2 linked regions of the Homo sapiens genome follow. The protein of the gene in region 2 interacts with the protein of the main gene of each other region in a pairwise test. Each region holds a gene or a part of one and is shown on either strand. Other genes may lie near its edges.

Region 1 (3,404 bases), on a different chromosome or scaffold from region 2:
GGGAAGCTTGGAGCTGCAAGCTTGCTTTGTTTTTACTCCTAAAAATGAAGTTACTCTTCACTTTTCAGCAAGCACATAACTAGGTTTGAATGATATGATTAGACATATCATAGTTTTTCATAAATGAAAAAGACCAAGCCAAAAAAAAAAAAAAAAATGTGCTAAGGCTGCTGTATTAATCACACAAGGAACTAATGCAAAAGAACTTGGGTATAGGCTGGATGCAGTGGCTCACACCTGTAATCCCAGCACTTTGGGAGGCCGAGGTGGGCAGATCATGAGGTCAAGAGATCGAGACCATCCTGGCCAACATGGTGAAACCCCATCTCTAATAAAAATACAAAAATTAGCCTGTCGTGGTGTGGCACATGCCTGTAGTCCCAGCTACTCAGGAGGCTGAGGCAGGAGAATCGCTTGAACCCAGGAAGTGGAGGTCGCAGTGAGCCAAGATCATGCCACTGTACTCCAGCCTGGCGACAGACACTCCAGCCCAACAGAGCAAGGCACTGTCTCAAAAAATAAAATAAATAAAATAAATAAAATTCTAAAAAAGAAAAAAAAGAACTTGGGTATGATACAGATGATTAACTGACATAAAATGGGCAATACTCAAAACCCAGTGAACACTACACATTCCAAAAAGGGACTCGCTTCCTGAGCTCAACATATTATAGCAGCGATTCTCAACCTGGCTGCACATCAGAATCACCTTAAAGGCTATTGCTAATGCCTGTGCCCCGTCCCAGATCCGTCAAATCAGAATCCCTGGGGTAAGGCCAGGCTTTGACTCATTTTTTTAAGAAGCTCCCCAGGTGATTCTTTTTTTTTTTTTTTTTTTTTTTTTGAGACGGAGTCTCACTCTGCCGCCCAGGCTGGAGTGCAGCGGCGCAATCTCAGCTCACTGCAAGCTCCACCTCCCAGGTTCAAGCGATTCTCCTGCCTCAGCCTCCTGAGTAGCTGGGACTACAGGCACCCACCACCTCGCCTGGCTATTTTTTTGTATTTTTAGTAGAGATGGGGTTTCACTGTGTTAGCCAGGATGGTCTCGATCTCCTAACCTCGTGATCCACCCGTCTCGGCCTCCCAAAGTGCTGGGATTACAGGCATAAGACACCGCGCCCGGCCCCTCAGGTGATTCTTTAAGTGCAGCCAAGGTTGGGAGGTTGGAATCGTTGCTTTAAAAGGAAGAGTTATCACAAGAAAATCCAGCAAGGAACACCTAAGGGTTACAAAGGATGTACTAAAACATCAAACACCCAATTAAGTGACAGCCAGCATTATTTTTATTATTGACCCCATAACTGTCATTCATATCATTATTTCTGCTGCTCCTATAACCTCTACTGACACAAAGCATCAAAGTGAGGGAGGGAAGGATAGCAAAGAGGACACTTTCAAGTCCAGACTCACCAACAAAAAAACTTGAACTCTCTAAATACTGCATGACTAATTTAAGGCAGAAAAATAAGTGTCTTAAAGGAACAAGGGTCAAATTGGTTAAATGTGCCTTCATTTAGAAAAGAGCTATATTTTTTATACTCTTAATATAATTATAAATCAGACAATAATCTGTCTAAAAGGTTTGGTCATTATGTCAGTCAGCAGTTTCAAACAGAACATCCCAACACCCAATTAAAATACCAAGTGTGGCCAGGAGCAGTGGCTCATGCCTGTCATCTCAGCACTTTCAGAGGCTGAGGCAGGCGGATCACGAGGTCAGGAGATCGAGACCACCCTGGCCAACATGGTGAAACCCCATCTCTACCAAAAATACAAAAATTAGCTGGGCGTGTTGGCACGTGCCTGTAATACCAGCTACTCGGGAGGCTGAGGCAGGAGAATCGCTTGAACCGGGGCATCGGAAGTTGCAGTCAGCCAAAATGGCGCCATTGCACTCCAGCCTGGCAACAGAGCAAGACTCCATCTTAAAAAAAAAAAAAAAAAAAAAGTGTGGCCGGGCGCGGTGGGCTCACGCCTATAATCCCAACACTTTGGGAGGCCAACGCAGGTGGATCACGAGGTCAGGAGTTTGAGATCAGCCTGGCCAACATTATGAAACCCCATCTCTATTAAAAATATAAAGATTAGCTGGGCGTGGTGACAGGCGCCTGTAATCCCAGCTACTCAGGAGGCTGAGGCAGAGAATTGCTTGAACCCAGGAGGCAGAGTGCAGTGAGCCAAGATTGCGCCACGGCACTGCAGCCTAGGAGACAGAGCAAGACTCCGTCTCGAAAAATAAATAAATTAATTAAATTAAATACCAAGTGTATTTTAGGTCTTCCTTAAAAAATTATCTTGAGTAAATGTTTTATCTCCATACCTTTGGTTTCTTTAATGACAATAGCGTTTAATAATCCTTTTCCTCTTACGGCAGTTACAACATCAGAAGGTAGCTTCATGAGTTCATTTCTCAAGATAATGCCCAATTTGTCTGCATTTTCAGCAAGGTTTTCTTCTTCTAAAACCTACGTTTAAAGAAAAATTATACAAATATTAAGACTGTCCTTTTTTTGTTTTTTGGAGGACAACGGGGACTGTAAACACAGGAAAAACATGACTAGATAAAATACCAGAGGAACTTAACTTTCATTGCTATTTTTCAAAGCCTGTATTAGTTTCTAATTAAACATACACTAGCTCAGAGTCTTGCTTTCATCACAAATCTATTGCCAATCATTCATGGCAAAATAAGGATTAAAGTTTATTTAATGCAACTCACATACTGTCATTAATTGAATACATCAATGGACGAAATGTAATTCCTAAACTGCAATAGTTTCTTCCCCCCTCACAAAGATCTGTCCTCAGAGATTACATAATAATTGTATACCTTCAGCAGGCACTTAAAAAATCAGTCTGAAAACATTATAAATCCACACTTGAAAGAAGACTTGCTTGCTAAGCAAAAAGACGGGTCTGGTAGGTGGGTCACAGTTGAGAGTTCTATGAGGGCCAGCCAGGGCCGAAGAACTCAAAGCGCCAGGTGACTGTGAACTCAGGAAGCCCACGGAGGAAATCCAGTCTACTAGGCCAAGTTTAAATTACTTTTTGAGAATATCTTGTTCCTAAAATTTTTCCTCTATACTTCATGTTTTCTAATATTTGGCATTCTTATTGAATTTTTTATTATACCAGTGGGCCCAAATTAAAAATCACTTCAACATTGCTTTAAAGAATAGACACTGTGTGGCTGTATCAGTCTTTACCTCAAGGGCTGCGATGGCCACTCGGCAGCCTAGTGGATTGCCACCGTATGTGGACCCATGCTCCCCTGGCTTAATGGTCAGCATGATGTCATCATCACACAGCACTGCAGACACCTGAAAGACAGTCAATTCACCATGTCATTTCTCAGCACTAAGCATTCTACTAAGCATCCTTTTCCCCAGAGTCTCGCTGTCACC
Region 2 (3,500 bases):
CACTGAATGCTTGGCTGTTACACAGCAGGCTGCTGGGTCTGGTGTACCCCAACCAGGTGGCCTCCCAGCTGCCAAATTGTGTGATTACAATTAGTTACCTCTATTCCTTTATCTGTTTATGTTCATTGTACTTGTTATTGTAATTGTGCAACTTAACCAGTGAACTTTGAGTTCAGAAAAGAACAAGGCTCAGCATGGTGGCTCACGCCTATAATCCCAGCACTTTGGGAGACCAAGGTGGGCGGATCACATGAGCCCAGGAATTTGAGACCAACCTAGGCAACATGGTGAAACCCCCTCTTTACTGAAAATACAAAACTAGCCAGGCACGGTGGTGTGCAGCCTGTAGTCCCAGCTACATGGGAGGCTGAGGCACAAGAATTGCTTGAACCCAGGAGACGGAGGTTGCAGTGAGCCAACAGCACGCCACTGCACTCCAGCCTAGGTGACAGAGTAAGAGTCTGTCTCAAAAAAAAAAAAAAAGAAATTACTGCTCACTTATATGGACAAACAAACTGAGAAGACTGGAGAGGGGATCTTAAAAGTCTAGAAGGACTCTGCACATAGATTACTTCATGAATGTTTTTAGGTTTTTGTTCTTTATAAAAACTAGGACTGGAAAACATAGGTCATTGATTATGGATGTGGCATATGAAAGAAAGACAACTTAACAATTCAAACAAACAAAACAAAACAAGATCTTGGCCCTACAAAGATTACCAAATAACTACATGTTTATATACATATAAAAGATTTATTTGCTAATAATATGTAATATGGTCTCGAACTCCCGACCTCAGGTGATCCGCCCGCCTCGGCCTCCCAAAGTGCTGGGATTATAGGCATGAGCCACTGTGCCTGGCCATATTTTTTATTTTTTGTAGAGATGAGGTCTCATGTTTCCCAGACTGGTCTGGAACTCCTGGCTCAAGTGATCCTCCCTTCTTGGCCTCCCAAAGTGTTGAGATTATAGGCATGAGCCATCACATCTGGCCTGATTATTTAATATTTTCATTTGCTTCCTCTTTGCACATAATATATAATTAGTAATATATAAAGTATGTATATATAAATGTATATTTATCTGCTAATCTTTGTTCTTAGGGCCAAGATCTTGTTTTGAGTTTTTTTTTTTTTTTTGGAGGCAGGGTCTTGCTCTGTTGACCAGGCTGGAATGCAGTAATGCGATCTCAGGTCACTGCAGCTTCCACCTCCCAGGCTCAAGTGATCCTCCCACCTCAGCCTCCCAAGTAGATGGAAGTACAAGTGCCTGCCACCTTGCCCAGCTATTTTGTGTGTGTGTGGAGACAGGGTCTCACTATGTTACTCAGGCTGGTTTTGAACTCCTGAGCTCAAGCGATCCTCCCACCTCAGCCTCCCAAAGTGCTAGGATTACATGCATGAGACACCACGCCCAACCTACATTTATATTTTTTAATCAACCGTATCCTTTACTTGATACTTTATCATACACTGTGTGGAAGACTGTAACTTCTTGAGTAAGATTTTATAATCCAAAATTGGGTAATATGATATTCATCTGTCATATTATTCAACTTTGGCCCTGCTAAAGTACTTCCAGTGAGATTATCCCTCTTCCCCCAGCCTTTCCTTTTTTAGAGCCTCTGTGAGGAGAAGTGAGAGACAGGGATGGGCTTGTTTGTACTCTTAGAAAGGCCAAATGATACAGAACATACAACAAATGACATCACAGTGCCTAGGAAAGTTAAAGCTGCTCCTAACGGGTCTGTTTTTACCCAGGGAGAAAAATGACTACTAATAGGATTGTGTGAGTTAGATTTCCCTGTGCCTTAAAGCTGTTTTAATAAAGAAAGGATGAAGCTGTTCCTAAGTTGTTAGGTTCGTTTGTTGTACTTTTCCACTAGAAGCCCTATATCTCTTGGCAAAGGGGAGCTGCTTCACATTTTCTCAGATCCTTCAGCTCACCAGGTTGGAACGGAGAGATGATTGACATTGGAGCTCTTCAGTGGGCAGAGACTGGTGGCCTGTTTGTCTGTAAAATGCCCCAGAGGAGCAGGTGGACTGACGTCTCTGCAGACTGCACCTTCCAGCAGGCTCTAGAGAAGAGAGTAAGACACAGGTAGCAATCCCAGAGGCAATAATCATGACAAAGGGCTTCCAGCAGATCCCAAGGTGGTTTGGGAGTCCTTTTGTAACACATCTTGGTCACCGTTCAATATTACATTGCTCTAAGATCATGATGGGTTCATTGATCCCGTCATGACTGGACATTTCTGCTTCTCATTTCTCAAAATCTTTCCTGGAAGCTTTTTTCCCCTGCTTTCCCTTCTGTTTGCCTAATACCAGTTAGTCATGTCTTCCATTACGTTATTTTTTGCCTCCTTCCCAAGGTGTGAATTCTGGTCTGAATTCATACTGCAGTCTCCATTCTTTTTATGTCTTTGCCCCAATCCTACTTCTTTGTTTCTGCTTTAATTCTCATTTCTCAATAAAAATAGTGCTGCACATCTACTGTGTGCTGTGTCTGAAGCAATCTATATCTTCATAGCCTAGTACAGAAAGGAAGGGCCCTTGTTCAGGAATACAATTGTTTATTCATTTCTTCAGCACACATTTTTGGAGTGTCTGTGTAAGACCTTGGGAATACATGGATAAATAAGACTGCTCAGCATTTTGGGAGGCCTACGTGGGAGGATCGCTTGAGCTGGGGATGTCTAGGATGTGGTGAGCTGTGTTTGCATCACTGCACTCCAGCCTGGGCAACAGAGTGAGAGAGACCCTGGCTCCAAAAAGAAAACACCATAAAATGAAATGATCCCTTAAATAGACTTCCTTTGTATACAATTAGTTGATCTCTTTGTTCATAAAACAGTAAAGTTTTATGAACTGCTTAGAAAATCTTTTCTTCGGCTTGGTTATTTAACATATTTCTGATGTGTTTTGTAAGAGCAGCTTAGCAATGATGAATAAAAAGGAGTATGAGCTCAGACATAGTGCTTATGCTTTTCTTAAAAGGAGGAAGGATTGTGATTTTTCTTTTTTCCTTTTTTTTTTTTTTTTTGAGATGGAGTCTTGCCCTGTCACCCAGGCTGGAGTGCAATGGCGCCATCTTGGCTCACTGCAACCTCCGCCTCCCAGGTTCAAACGATTCTCCTGCCTCAGCCTCCCGAGTAGCTGGGATTACAGGTGCCTGCCACCGCACCCAGCTAATTTTTGCAGTTTTAGTAGAGATAGGGGTTTCACCACCTTAGCCAGGCTGGTCTCGAACTCCTGACCTTGTGATCCACCCTCCTCGGCCTCCCAAAGTGCTAGGATTACAGGTGAGAACCACCGCGCCCGGCCTTTCCTTTTTTTTTTGAGACAGGGTCTTGCTCTGTCATCCAGGTTGGTGTGCTGTGATGCAGTCATGGCTAACTGCAGCCTTGACCTCCTGAGCTCAAGCGATCCTCCTTCCTCAGCCTCCCGTGTAGCTAAGATTACAGGCATGCACCACCATGCCTGGCTAATTTATTTTTAGT

What was found. Proteins that work in one complex are often made in the same cells at the same time.
Region 1: the proteins of NUDT3 (region 2) and OAT interact in a two-hybrid assay, tested with the Homo sapiens proteins (one large-scale study listed by BioGRID and IntAct).

The regions. Positions count from the first base shown.
Region 1 is NC_000010.11:124,398,520-124,401,923, forward strand, and holds part of OAT (ornithine aminotransferase, mitochondrial isoform 1 precursor), read right to left. Parts: intron 3,321-3,404; coding exon 3,207-3,320; intron 2,466-3,206; coding exon 2,321-2,465; intron 1-2,320. UniProt on the Homo sapiens protein: Catalyzes the reversible interconversion of L-ornithine and 2-oxoglutarate to L-glutamate semialdehyde and L-glutamate.
Region 2 is NC_000006.12:34,382,670-34,386,169, reverse strand, and holds part of NUDT3 (diphosphoinositol polyphosphate phosphohydrolase 1), read left to right. Parts: intron 1-3,500. UniProt on the Homo sapiens protein: Cleaves a beta-phosphate from the diphosphate groups in PP-InsP5 (diphosphoinositol pentakisphosphate) and [PP]2-InsP4 (bisdiphosphoinositol tetrakisphosphate), suggesting that it may play a role in signal transduction.